Homo sapiens: one gene and its partner. The protein of the gene in region 2 purifies or fractionates together with the protein of the main gene of each other region. This does not show direct contact. Each region holds a gene or a part of one and is shown on either strand. Other genes may lie near its edges. The genes, in order: ABCB10 and SLC24A5.

Region 1 (7,280 bases), on a different chromosome or scaffold from region 2:
TCTTGCTCTGTCACCCAGGCTGGAGTGCAGTGGCGCGGTCTTGGCTCACTGCAACCTCCACCCCCCCAGGTTCAAGCGATTCTCCAGCCTCAGCCTCCCGAGTAGCTGGGACTACGGGTGCGTGCCACTGCGTCCAGCTATTTTTTTTGTATTTTTAGTAGAGACGGGGTTTCACCATGTTGGCCAGGCTGATCTTGAACTCCTGACCTCAGGTGATCCACCTGCCTCGGCCTCCCAAAGTCCTGGGATTACAGGCATGAGCCATCCACGCCTGGCCTAATTTTTGTATTTTTTTTTTTAGTAGAGACAGGGTTTCACCCTGTTGGCCAGGCTGGTCTTGAACTCCTGGCCTCAAGTGATCTGCCCACCTTGGCCTCCCAAAGTGCTGGGATTACAGGTGTGAGCCACCGCACCCGGCCAGCATTGGCAATTTTTGACATCTCTATGGTGACCGAATGAATTTTTTTCTTACAAAAAAAATTTTAGTTTTGTAAGAAACTCCCAAACTGCCTTCCAAAATGTGTGTCCCATTTGCATCCCCACTAGCAAGGAATGAGAGTTCTTGTTGCTCCACATCCACCCCAGCATTTAGTGGCGTCAGTGTTCTAGCTTTTAGCCATTCTGATAGATGCATGGTATTTCATTGTTGTTTTAGTTGGCATTTCCCTGATGACATATGATGTTGAGCGTCTGTTCATATGCTTATTTGCTCTCTGTATATTTTCTCTGGTGAGTTGTCTGTTCAGGACTTTTGACCATTTTTAAGTAAGTCTTCATGTTTCCGTATTGTTGAGTTTTAAGAGTTCTTCGTATATTTTGGGTAGCAATCCTTTATTGGATAGGTCTTTTACAGATATTTTCTTCCAGTTTGTGGCTGGTCCTCTTCTTTTCACATTGTCTTTTGCAAAGCATACATTTTTAATTTTAATGAAGTCCAGCTTCTTTCTTTCATGGATTGTACCTTTGGTATTGTATCTAAAAAGTCATCACCAAATTCAAGGTCATCTACACTTGCTCCTAGGTTGCCTTCTAGGAGTTTATTGTTTTGTGTTTTACATTAGGTCTGTAATTCACTCTACATTAGTTTTTGGGAAAGGTGTAAGGTCTGTGTCTAGATTCCTTCTTTGCATGTGGATATTCAGTTGTTCTAGAACCATTTGTTAAAAAGATAATATGTATATTGCCGTTGCATCTCCATTGTATTGCGTTTGCTTCTGTGTCAAAAATCAGTTGACTGTTTATGGGGGTCTATTTTTGCCAAATGCATTTTTAATTCAGCCTAAAAATTTTAGTCCATTGTATCTTGCATAAATATTCATACTGTAGAATATTTGAATTGTATTTTTTCAGCATCCTCACTGAGGGAAAATGTTACAAATGTATGTCCTCACATTTGATGTAGACCATTGCATTTGGGGTTTAAGTTGTTAAATGGTTCAGGCTAGGCATGGTGGCTTACACCTATAATCCCAGCACTTTGGGAGGCTGAGGTGGGTACATCACTTGAGGTTGGGAGTTGGAGACCAGCCTGGCCAACATGGTGAAACCCCATCTCTACTAAAAATACAAAGATTAGCCAGGCATGGTGGGGGGCACCTGTAATCCCAGCTACTCGGGAGGCTGAGGCAGGGAGAATTGCTTGAACCTGGGAGGCAGAGGTTCAGTGATAGATACTACACCACAGCAGAGCAAGACTCCGTCTCAAAAAAAAATAATAATAATGGTTCAAAGCTGACTTTAAAAAGGGATGGCTAGAGACCAGGGACGGTGACACACACTTGTAATTCCAGCACTTTGGGAGGCCAAGGCAGGAGGATTGCTTGAGCCCAGGAGTTTAAGACCAGTCTAGGGAACATAGTGAGACCCTGTCTCCACAAAAAAATAAAAATAAAGAGATTGCTGGAATGTTTAACATTAACCAAATTTATTTCAGTTTTTACTACTGTGAAAGTTTTGTTGTTGTTGTTTTTTGTTTTGAGACAGGGTCTCGCTCTGTTGCTCTGAGTGCTGCCAGAGTGCAGTGGTGCAGTAATACCTCATTGCAGCCTTAACCTCTTGGACTCAAGCAATCCTCCTGCCTCAGCCTCCCAAGTAATTAGGAATATAGGCACATGCTACCAGGCCTGGCCTTACAGTTATTTTTTGTAGAAACAGGGTTCTCTCTATGTTGCCCAGGCTGATGTTGAACTCCTGGGCTCTAGCAATCCTCCCACCTTGGCCTCCCAAAGTGTTGAGATTACAGCCATGAACCATTTTGCCTGGCCCTTTTTTTTTTTTTAAACATAGCATTACATTGTATGAGGTATTATAAGTAATCTAGAGATTACTTGAAGTATATGGGAGTATGTGAGTAGCGTATCAAAGTTGTATTTATTGAGTGGCTGAAGGTGAGGTATTATTTTGTGGATTTGTCTTTAAAATCAACATTGAAGTATTTTATATTTTTTTAAATTATGAGATAGCATTACATTTCAGTTAAATTACAATGCTTTTAACTAGGTAGATTTCCTCTGCGGCATTATGATTTTAATCCAGTGGTTGATGAGTATGACTATATATGTTTTTCAATCCCTGATCAAACATTAAGTCCTTATTAGAAATCAGTGAAATGTGGCCAGGTGCAGTGGCCCATGCCTATAATCCCACACTTTGGGAGGCTGAGGCGGGTGGATCACCTAAGGTCAGGAGTTTGAGAGCAGCCTTGCCAACATGCGAAACCCCATCTCTACTAAAAATAAAAAAATTAGCCAGGCCTGGTGGCTTGCGCCTGTAATCCCAGCTACTCGGGAGGCTAAGGCAGGAGAATCACTTGAACTGGGGAGATGGAGATTGCAGTGAGCTGAGATTGTGCCAGTGCACTCCAGCCTGGGTGACAGAGTGATGATCTGTCTCAAAAAAAAAAAAAAAAAAAAAAACTATGAAACTGGAGGAGGAGAAGCCAAAGGAAAACTAGAGTATGAGACAAGCAATTCTGAGTATCAGTTCCCAGGAAGCTGCCTCAAGTTGTTTTTTGAAAATATTAATAACAGATTTTATATTAAAAGCAATCATTGTCACTCCTCTCAGAGGAGTGGTGGCCAGTGCCAGTGCCAGTGATGGACATGTGTGTGGATTCTGCTTCTCATCCTCAGGTCTGAGCTCTTTCTACTCGGAGCTGATGAAAGGACTGGGTGCAGGGGGGCGCCTCTGGGAGCTCCTGGAGAGAGAGCCCAAGCTGCCTTTTAACGGTGGGTCTGAAAATTGTTTCTTTGCTAGGATTAACAAATGTGGCTTTGAACAATGAGACCAGCTCTTCCCCTGTCTGCAAGGGAGTGAGGGATGAGCCACAGTAAGGATGTGGCTCCTGCTGCATGGCGGGCCGGGTGAGGAGGTGGTCAGGTTTTCTATGAGAGGGGGTGGGACAGCTGCTGGGGCACTGTTGTGGGCCAGGGTGTCCCTGGATGCATGGGCTGGCCACATAGTGTGCTGCCCTCTGTTCCCCTCCCTCCATCTGGGTGTTACCGCAAAGGGCAGGATGGAAGTCAGTGTGGCCCAGGGCTGTGTCCCAGCTAGTTTACCAAATTGATCTTCCCTAGTGATTCTGACATCTCTGTGGAGGGCTAGGGTGGGAATAAGGGAGGAGGAATCAGACATAAGAAAATATCTAAGTTTCTTGGCATTTTGGTGTGGGGTAGGGGAGGCTGGTACTCATTGGCTGGAGCCATCTCCTTCCTTATCAGTGACTTCCCTGGAGCTGTAGGGCCTAAACCAACTAGCCAGGAATCAGGAGAAATGGCTATGAGTAGTAACCACTCCCAGCTGCTTATTGACTTCCTAGGACATTGTCAGGTAGCCCCAGGTCCATAAATGAAAGCCCAATATTCTCCAATGTGATAGGCCTAGGAAATAGGTCCAGCTGAGAGAGTTTCAGTAGTGTCTCCCAAAGCACAGTAGGTGAACACCAGGGCAGAACAGACCTCTGACCCCTCCAGTTCTGCGGCTGCTGTGCAGCGCTCCCCGTTTCATCATAACTCTTCCAAAATATTTATTCCGGGTAGGTAAGATAAACTCTGGAGCTACACAGAGGCAGTGGCATAGAGAGAAGGCCATCGGATTTGAAACCAGACTAACAAGGGTGGATCTTAACTCCACTACTTGTTAGCTTAAGCAGGTTGTTGTCTGTGGTCTTCAATGTCCTCATCAGCAAAATTGGAATTATAATTTCTACCTCTCAGGGTTGTAAGGATCAAGTAAGACCGTCTACGTATATAGTACCTTGGACATAGTAGGTGCAGAGTTGGCACGTGGTAAGCATTTAGCCTAGGTTTGCTTCTGACTTGCCCTTTAAGAGCTCATATACCAGGATTAGCTGTGGTGGAGTCACCCATCCATAGCCAGATGAGTAGGAGAACCGAGTTCAGCTTTTGAGTTTAATTTTTTGCTGTAAGTAATTAATATTCCATTTTATGTTTCAGAGGGGGTCATCTTAAATGAGAAAAGCTTCCAGGGTGCTTTGGAGTTTAAGAACGTGCATTTTGCCTATCCAGCTCGCCCAGAGGTGCCCATATTTCAGGATTTCAGCCTTTCCATTCCGTCAGGATCTGTCACGGCACTGGTTGGCCCAAGTGGTTCTGGCAAATCAACAGTGCTTTCACTCCTGCTGAGGTTGTACGACCCTGCTTCTGGTAAGCAGTTCACCACACTGTAGCACCGAGGGACTCTCCCGAGCTCTGCTCCCACTTTTGCGCCCTAGGAGATGCTCAAACCATGCAAATACCTTATTTTGTAGAGTACCTTCTTTTCTAAGTGCCAGTGGAAAGAAATCCCTCAAACAGAAGGTGTCATTTGCAGGGGCATGACAGCTCATACAGAGGCCTTTAGAGCTTTTTGTGTGTAATGTGTCCTACCTCTTCAAGCCCAGAGTGACTTCCCCAGATCTACCTCCTCATCTCCCATGCGGGTATCTCCTCTGGACATGCCCTCTACTGGGAGCAGGTGGACGAGGCTGTGCTCAGCAGCCAGGACAGAGTGCCTGGGGTGCTCCAGCAGCACCCTGGAGAACCACCGTGTGCCAGTGCGCGTGCTGGGCGCAGGAGTGATAGGGAGCTCCTGGAGAACCTCTGCCTCTGCCTGTGAGCCATTGAATGCTTATTGTGCACACAGTTAACTTGGCCATCAGTGATTCACTTCTTTTTTTTTTTTTTTTTTTTTTTTTTGAGACAGTCTTGCTCTGTCGCCCAGGCTGGAGTGCAGTGGCGCGATCTCAGCTCACTGCAAGCTCTGCCTCCTGGGTTCCCGCCATTCTCCTGCCTCAGCCTCCCGAGTAGCTGGGACTACAGGTGCCTGCCACCACGCCCAGCTAATTTTTTGTATTTTTAATAGAGTTGGGGTTTCACCGTGTTAGCCAGGATGGTCTCGATCTCCTGACCTCGTGATCCACCCGCCTTGGCCTCCCAAAGTGCTGGGATTACAGGTGTGAGCCACCGTGCCTGGCCAGTGATTAACTTCTATGTGACTGTTCCATTGAAACTATTTTGACCTAGTAGGGATTTTCTTTTTTTTTTTTTTTTTTTTTTTTTTTTTTTTTTGAGACGGAGTCTTGCTCTGTTGCCCAGGCTGGAGTGCAGTGGCACGATCTCAGCTCACTGCTGCAAGCTCCGCCTCCCGGGTTCACGCCATTCTCCTGCCTCAGCCTCCCGAGTAGCTGGGACCACAGGCGCCTGCCACCATGCCCGGCTAATTTTTTTTGTATTTTTAGTAGAGATGGGGTTTCACCGTGTTAGCCAGGATGGTCTCGATCTCCTGACCTCGTGATCCACCCTCCTCAGTCCCCCAGAGTGCTGGGATTACAGGCGTGAGCCACCGCGCCCAGCCGGGATTTTCTTAATGGATGATTTTTCTCATTCTAGTTTTTATTTTATTTTTAACTGGATTATAACATCTTTAAGAGCAAAGAGCACATGATTTTACTTCTATCTTCCCTGTAGTAGACAACAATGTCAGCAAGCAAACAACTCTTAGTAAAAATCAAATCATGAATTTAGAAAGAATATTTTGGCCAGATGTGGAGCCCCACACCTGTAATTGCAACACTTTGGGAGGCTGAGGTGGGAGGATCACTTGAGGCCACAAGTTGGAGACCAGCCCGGGTAACATAGTGAGACCCTGTCACTATTTATTAAAAAAAAAAAATTCTGTAATTTAAAAAATGAATGTTTTGTGTCTTTGTGCTTATGCTTTTTGGTTAAAACAATGTGAGAGCTGGTTACATGTCAGATAAATATGTGACTTGCAAATCCTGACCCATGGAATCACCACCTGTGTTAAAATGGGGCTTACTACATTGTTTGTCTCTGGAATCACTTTCTTGATTCACCATTCACTTGCTATAAAATTTGGAGTTTAAAAAAATCCTAGTTAGCTGGGCACAGTAGTTCACACCTGTAATCTCAGCTCTTAGGGAGGCAGAGGTGGGAGGATAGCTTGAGCCCGGGAGTTTGAGACCTGCTTGGGCAATATAGTGAGACCTTGTTCTCCATAAAAAGGAAAAAAAAAAAAGACCAAAAAAAATCCTATTTAGGTTGCTGTAATTCAAGTAAAAATACTGAGTCTCTAGTTTCTTCATCACAATGAATAAATCCAGGACAAAGCAAACTGCAGTTAAATGTCTGCCATGTGTAGTCTATAAAGAGCTTTGTGCTTTTTCGTCAAAGACCTCAAGTTTTTGCCAGTTTGTGAACATTTCCAGCTGGCTTCTATAATTCCACAACATTAACTGAGAAGAAATGGCATTTCTTATGCTGTCACTGTTGTCATCATCACCAAGTTTTGTTGAGCACCCTCAATGTGAAGAATTCTGTTAGCAAAAGTCATAAAGATAGCGTCTGATTATTTAAAAGCTCTGCCATGGTATCGACCAGATTCTTAGTTGCAGACAACAGATTCCTCACCAACTAAGCTTATTACAGAAAGGGATATTTTAAGGAGTAATAAAAGAGCTCAAAAATCACTGGCAGGAATGACAAAATAGATTCTAGATTGTACTTCCAGGACAGTTTGCAGAACTCCACCCCAGAACCAGGCCTTCAAGGTAGCTGCTGACACTGGCATGGTCAGGAAGCTACAAATTTAGGCAGTTGCTGTCATGAATGCCAGCTTCAGAGCTGTGCCACCTCTGCCAGTATTCGTGCCAGCAAGTGGATGCCTCATGGCTTGCCCCTCCCTTCTGAATTAAAGCTTTGCACAAGTGCATCTTATCGGTGGAATCCTAAGTCACTAGGGAGTTTTGGGAAAACTCCCTA
Region 2 (7,280 bases):
TTCCACCAGGAAAGAATAGAATGAGGGTGATTATGGTGCCAGTGCCACAAAGTGTAAACAAAAAAGATTCAGTCACCTACCATGTTCTAATGGGCCTAAGTGCCATTCTTATATTGGGTTTCTGTGGTAAAATAAAAACAGCATTGGGCTTAGAATCAACAGGCTCAGGGTTTATGCCCTAACTCTCAACATTTCAGATCCTTGCAATCCATGTGACATTATTTTACCTCCTGGGCCTGTTTATCTGTAAAATGGAATACCACCACTCATATTTCATGATAGTTGATATTAAATTATGTATATGGGAGTGCATTGTACACCATGAATATATTATTTACTTCATTTCTAAAATGAAAAACAGTTAATTACAGAGCCATCTCCTTTATCTTTTTGTTCTATGTTTTAAATATTATGGTCAGTTGTACACATCAGAATTGTAATAAGAATATAGTATATATGTGTGTCTATACATATATACACACACTGGTTAGAGTGATTATACGTATGCATGTATATGTGTATATGTATGTAATCACTCTAATCAGGAAAATAAATACTAGGAAATATGCTATGGTTTGGGTATTTGTCCACTCCAAATCTCATGTTGAAATTTGATCCTAAATGTTGGAGGTGGGGAGTAATGGGAGGTGTTTAGATCCTGGGGGTTAATCCTTTCCTAGGGGGTGAGTTCTCTCTCTTTAGTTCCTTTACAGAGCTGGTTGTTTAAAAGAGCCTGGCACCACCCACCTCTCTCTCTTACTTCCTCTCTCACCATGTGATCTCTGCACACACCAGTTCCCCCTCTATCTTCCACCATGAGTGGAAGCAGCCTGAGGCTCTCACCAGATGCCCAATCTTGAACTTTTCCAGACAGAGGAATCATGAGCCAAATAAACCTTTTTTTCTTTATAAACTACCCAGTCTCAGGCATTCCTTTATACACACAAAATGCACTAGGATACAATGTAAACTACAAAAATCATTTATTTCTCACCCTTCACTAGTCACTGCAGGTAGATGTTCAACAAGCAACATGACCAAAGGCAAACAGAATAGAGGGCCTGGCCTAAATAATTCTAACCACCCCAAGAGAACTTTTCACAATGGTTTTTCAGGTGTCAAAATAGCTTGGATTAGGGCTGGTTGGATCTCTCAGACCAAATTACCCCAAGGGATAAAATTAATGACTGGAGCTGGTATCATCAGCAGACAGTATGTAGGTGACAGATTTCTAAGTACTTCCCACATCTTTCAAAATGAAAGCCAAAGTCCTTATTAGGATCCACAAGACCTTACATGATCTGCCTATTACCTTTAATCTCATCACCTACTGCTTTCCCTTGACACTCTTCATTCTAGACATGCAGGTCTTCTGTTTCTTCACCACACAGACTAGCCTCTACCTCAATACCTTTGCAGTCATTTATTCTGCATAGAATACTTTTAGCCCAGGCATACAAATGACTCATTTCAAGGTCTTTAGTTACCTTCTCAATTAAGTCCTTTCTGGTTATCCAATCTAAAATTTCAATCCTTCCTCTCTGACATTTTTCTCTCTCTCCCCTCCCTGCCTTTACTCCTTGCAACTTATCTCTAACATCATACCTATTTTGCTTATCTTATCTGCTTCCCCTTACTAAAAGTAAAGCTCTGTGAGAGCAGGAATATTTGTCTATTTTGTTCACTGCCTTATTACTAGCACATTAAAAAAGCATCTGGCATATAGTAAGTACTCAATAAATACAACAAATAAATGAACCACCAGATGACTTAACTATCACCCCAAAACTAGTGGCTAAAAACAACAATTACTTTCACGGTTTTGGGTGTTTACTGAGCTAAGCTAGGTAGTTCTCACTCAGGGTCTCTTGTGCAGCTATGGTCAGAGGATGGAGCTAGAATCACCTGAGAGCTCACTCTCTCATATGTCTGGTGCCTAGGCTGGGAATTTTCAAAATCTGGGGACTGAAACAGCAGCAATTCCTTAGACATCTCTATTTCTATATGGGCTTTTCATGAGGTTTCTCCAGTATGGGGGTTTCAACAAAGTAGCAGGACTTACCATGTCGTAGCTTAAGGGAAATGTCCTGTGATGATAGTAAGGAAGTCGTATCACCTTTTATGTAGGGGATTAAAGGGTTCTGGAAAACTACGTGGAGCAGAAAAATACCATAACTATTATTGTAATATACAATCTGCCACACCAAGAAACACAAAAGGAATCAGTAAGCTCAAATGCCGTCCCAGCAGACTACAGAACAAGGTTCACCTGAGTGCAGGCAACAGGTGGTCCCAGAGACAAGAATAAGGAAATACCAACCACCTGTGACAGGGAGTCAACCAAGCACACCAGAGTTTGAGGGTCTGGGAAGACTGAAGCGTCAAAAACCAATAGGTATAGTAAACGACAATAAACATCAACAAAGAGTTGCCATCAAGTCTTGAAAACCCAAATTCTAGTTCTGACTTCGATACTAACTTTGTGACCTAGGGTAGATAATTTAATGTATGGCATGCTACCTCTATTAGCTAGTTTTTAGTTTATCAGTAAAGCCTGGTTGGGGATTTCTTATGCAAACCTATCTCGGCCTACGGCTTTCTCTGTTCCTTCCCATGGTAGGTCCCTTGGCCCTAAAATTGAAAGGACAAAAAACTTCTTAATTTAGTGACTCTCATCTTGTCAGTCCCTAAAGTTTATGAACTTGCATGCTTGTAAGCCTGGTGGATAGAAACAAACTGTAGTATTACGTATTTTCTTATATTCCTATTCTAGAGCAAAATTTTAATAGATCCATGTTTTAAATCAATAGACTACACAATATTAAATCTAGTTATTTTCTCTCATTTGTAATTAGACAACGTTGAAACTGCAAATTTTTTTAGAATATCCAGTTTTCTTGTGACTATCAGCCAAATTCAGCTACATTCAAATCATCAAAAATTCTCTGCATGGCAAACTGAAAAACCCCAGCCAAAGCCTCCCATATTCCGAATAATATTTTACACAAAGGTCCTATACCAGAAAATTTGAACGGACAGTTGAGATGACTTAACAGATGTGTGCAAATTTGTGAACAAGCTCTGTTCAGCTGCATTATACATCTAAAAAACTAACATCTTTTTTTTCTTCTTTGAAGTTGGGTTAGGATTTCCAAATTATCTTAATTTTCAAAGCCATGCTGTTGCTACTCACCTACAAGCCCTCTGCCTCTGAACGCTTTTCTGGGTTCCAAATAACCCTATGTTTGGCACTCAGGATATTCCCTTTAGTCTCCTGGCCTTCCCTCACCCTTTCTATAGAAGCATTAAGTAATGAAGTCATAAAGAAGCAAAACATTGGACTCTTTTAATCTGTGTATTTTATTTTTCTAGTTTAATAGTGGTTTTATGTGAAGCTGTAGCTTTGAGTATCTATTGTGTTTAGTTGTAAAGACATACTCTTTCACTTTATTAGGCATAACAATCATTTCATTTATGTTCAGCCCTTGGATTGTCTCAGGATGTTGCAGGCACAACTTTCATGGCAGCGGGCAGTTCAGCTCCTGAATTAGTTACTGCTTTCCTAGGTAAATATTGCTCCTTATACTTCTTGCTTACTCAGTGTGATTTTTATTTTCTTCAAGTTAACACTAACTTAGCTGGTACTATCTTGCACATAGGTGTATTTATCACAAAGGGAGATATTGGCATTAGCACCATCCTTGGATCTGCAATTTATAATCTCCTTGGCATCTGTGCTGCCTGTGGTTTGCTATCTAATACGGTATGTAACAAAACCATTCAACAAAATGTATTGTCTTAAAAAATTCTAAAGATAACTGTTCGTCGTCTGGGATGGACAACAGGGCACTAATAATATGTGCAATCAAATTTATTAATCAGTAGAAAAACAACATGTATTCAATTTAATGTTAATCCACAAATAGCTCTTGGTCAGATTTATGAAAGTCTGTGTAAGTTAGAACACAATTTTACATTTTTTTCTCTAAGCAATATGCAAAAGATAACAATATTTAACTACAAATATATAAACAATTTTAGTATTATACTAAGGATTGTACTTGAAGAAGTTACAATGTAATGGAAATAATAACTTACCATATTACAGGTCTCAACACTATCATGTTGGCCCCTATTCAGAGACTGTGCAGCGTACACAATTAGTGCAGCAGCAGTTCTTGGTATAATATATGACAACCAAGTTTACTGGTAAGCTTGAAAATAATTCTTATGTAAAAATTAGAGATTTTATGAATTTCTGATGGTTCAGTAATTTTTTTTCAGAAATGTTATTTCAGTCACTTAATCTGCCACTTCTATACCATATTCCAACAGGTCTGTGAGTTAACCTCATCACAATTGCTGATTGAGTTCTTCTCACTAGTTTGCAATTTCTTCTTAATCACTTCACAGTCTCCTTTTTTCTCTCACTAGTCACTGGAGACCACCACTTTTCCTTCTCCCCACTGGCTGCCTATTCAGAAAGTTTCCCAACTCCTGTTGTCCATTAAAGCCACAACAGTTGACTTTTTCTTCTGCTGGGTTACTGCTCACCTTGCCTTGGTTAGAAGTGTTCATGGCCACAAAAGACTGGAGAAGGATGGTAGAGGAAGTAAAAGAAGTCTTTTTAAATTCCTCCAAACTTCTGATGCTCATTCAGGAGAAACTATAGCCTTCCTCTAAGAAATAACAATGCTTAGCTTTTCATATTAAAAATTGTTTGCTTTCCTTACAATCTCTCTGTGCCTAGCTGGTCCAAGAAAATGAAAAAGGTGGTGACTGAGTGGACAGATACTAACTTTTTCAACTAGTAAGCAGCAGGCACCTACTAGGTCCTTCTCACTATGCTAGATATCATAAGGGATAATGAAATGTAAAACACAGCTACACAGGTTATATACATTGCATAACTCCAGAGGACACCAGAAAAATATGAAAAAAAAAAAATGTAATGGTGTCCATCTGGAGAACCATAACCTTGCAGCACGGCGTAATACCTGCTATCAAGAAACTTAAAACCTAGCCAGAAGCATAATTTCTAAACTAATCATCCTGTCCTCTAGTCCGTCTCCCTAAGACACTGTGTTGGTAGAATAGAAATCCTTCTAGAACTCAGCAGTTGTCTGTAAGGGATAGTGACTGTGAGAGTATCCAAGCTAATTCTTCCTCCATTAGGGAAATCAGAACTGTTCTTTAAGATACAGCAGACAGAGATTCACTGGCTATAAAAGGTAAATGCAAGGTTCAAATGTGATGGCATTAGCTAACTGCCAGAGTACAGGGAAACAGTTCTTGGTTCCAAGGGTATAATTTTATATTTTAGAACATCTTGTTTTCTTGTGACTGTAAGCCAAATTCAGCTACATTCAAATCATTAAAAATGCTCTGTATGACAAACTGAAAAATCCCAGCCTAAGCCTCCCATATCTGAGTAATATTTTACACAAAGTTCCTATACCAGAAAACTTGGACAGTTGAAATAACTTAACAGTTACTATATTATTTTATAATTATTATGTATGTTGGGGAATGTATTATGCCAATGAGCTGAGGCAGAAAATGTTCACCACTATTTATTAATTTTACATTTATTTTGAAAATCTCCAATTATCATTTTCCTTGCATTTTTATACCTATCATTTGGAAGGAATCTACAAGTAAAAACGAGTTTGTTGATCTTGTTTTTAAAAAAAAAAAAACAACACAGAAGTGTCCAGCTTTTATCAATAAACATAATAATGCTGTAATCAAGTCTGGACAAATCTACAAAACAAAAAATATCTAGAAATGTTTGATTGTTCTATGGCTACTTTTGTTAGAAAATCATTCAATAGATACTGCCCAAAAGCTATCAACTCTAAAATGACTTTCACTTTTAATTTAAAAACACAAATTTCTCTTTTGTAGGTATGAAGGGGCTTTACTGCTTTTGATATATGGATTGTATGTTTTGGTGCTGTGTTTTGACATTAAAATTAACCAATATATTATAAAGAAATGCAGTCCTTGCTGCGCCTGTCTTGCCAAAGCTATGGAGAGAAGTGAACAACAGCCACTGATGGGCTGGGAAGATGAAGGTCAACCATTCATTCGTCGGCAATCAAGAACTGATAGTGGAATATTTTATGAAGATTCTGGCTACTCTCAGCTCTCTATAAGTTTACATGGCCTTAGTCAGGTTTCTGAAGGTAATCACTAAATCTTGCCCATTATTAAGTCTATTCGCAAAGGAAAAACTTTAAAATTTCATTTCAATTCAGCAAGTATTGTGTGCTTTTTATGTAAAAAAGACTGTGAAGACTCAGAAATGATAAAGACCAAGTCCCTACCTTTAAGGAACTTCCAATATCACAGGAAATACAAAATAGCTAAAGTATGAACGTTAAGTACCATAAAAAGAGAAAAATAAAGTGTGACTGTGGTTCACAAATGGGACAGATTGCCAAAATGTGGTGAGGACAGATAGGAGATTTTCACAGAGAAGGGAGCATTTAAATTGGGCCTTGCTGGACAGGAAAGACTTTAACTAATGACATATGTTATGACCAATAAGTAGCAGCTACTGAGGTCTTCATTCCATAAATGATGCAGAGATAAAACACATAGAGCACAGTATGTGCATAGGAAGGAAGGAGAGGAAAGGTAGAAAGGAATAGGATAAGAAGAATCTTAAATGCTATTTTAAGAATCTTGGAAGGTTTCTGAGGAGAGAAATTATTAGAACTGTTATCTTAGTAATGTTACCCAAAATGATGTTCACCGAACTAAAATATGAAGAGACAAAGAGGTCTGTAAGAGAGGCTATTACAACAGCTGATGTGTTTACTAGGTGCCTAGACCAAGTGAAAGTGGTGGGAATAAATGAGAACAGATGTGAGACTATATGAAGGAAGCATCACCAAGACTATATGGGGCCAGAAAAAGGAACAAAGACACCTCCTATGTTTTAATCTTGACTGAGAAAATGGGAACAGCACTTATTAAAACTGGGAACTCAGAAAAAGGGGCTGGTTTGGAAGAAAGAAGAAAAACAGCTGAGGTTTACCATTGTTTAAAGCAATAGCAAAACTTTTAGGTAAATAGGTTCAGTAGGAAGTCAGAAAATTCAGCTATGGTCAAAATTATAAGTTCATGGGTTACCTTTTTATAAAGTGGTTGTCCAAAACAGATTCTAAATTTAATTAAGCCTTTAGGAGGGTTTTATTCTAATCTACTACTTAAAATTTTAAAACATGACTTTTCCCCCTTTTTACAAAAATTTTAGCTTCTACTCTTTCAGG

What was found.
Region 1: the proteins of SLC24A5 (region 2) and ABCB10 purify together in Homo sapiens (affinity purification with mass spectrometry; 3 studies listed by BioGRID and IntAct, with this or other methods). This does not show direct contact.

The regions. Positions count from the first base shown.
Region 1 is NC_000001.11:229,527,583-229,534,862, reverse strand, and holds part of ABCB10 (ATP-binding cassette sub-family B member 10, mitochondrial), read left to right. Parts: intron 1-3,131; coding exon 3,132-3,227; intron 3,228-4,454; coding exon 4,455-4,664; intron 4,665-7,280.
Region 2 is NC_000015.10:48,130,776-48,138,055, forward strand, and holds part of SLC24A5 (sodium/potassium/calcium exchanger 5 precursor), read left to right. Parts: intron 1-3,482; coding exon 3,483-3,566; coding exon of another isoform or gene 3,567-3,659; coding exon 3,660-3,763; intron 3,764-3,856; exon of another isoform or gene 3,857-4,108; coding exon 4,109-4,209; exon of another isoform or gene 4,210-5,907; coding exon 5,908-6,188; exon of another isoform or gene 6,189-7,280. UniProt on the Homo sapiens protein: Calcium, potassium:sodium antiporter that transports 1 Ca(2+) and 1 K(+) to the melanosome in exchange for 4 cytoplasmic Na(+). Involved in pigmentation, possibly by participating in ion transport in melanosomes.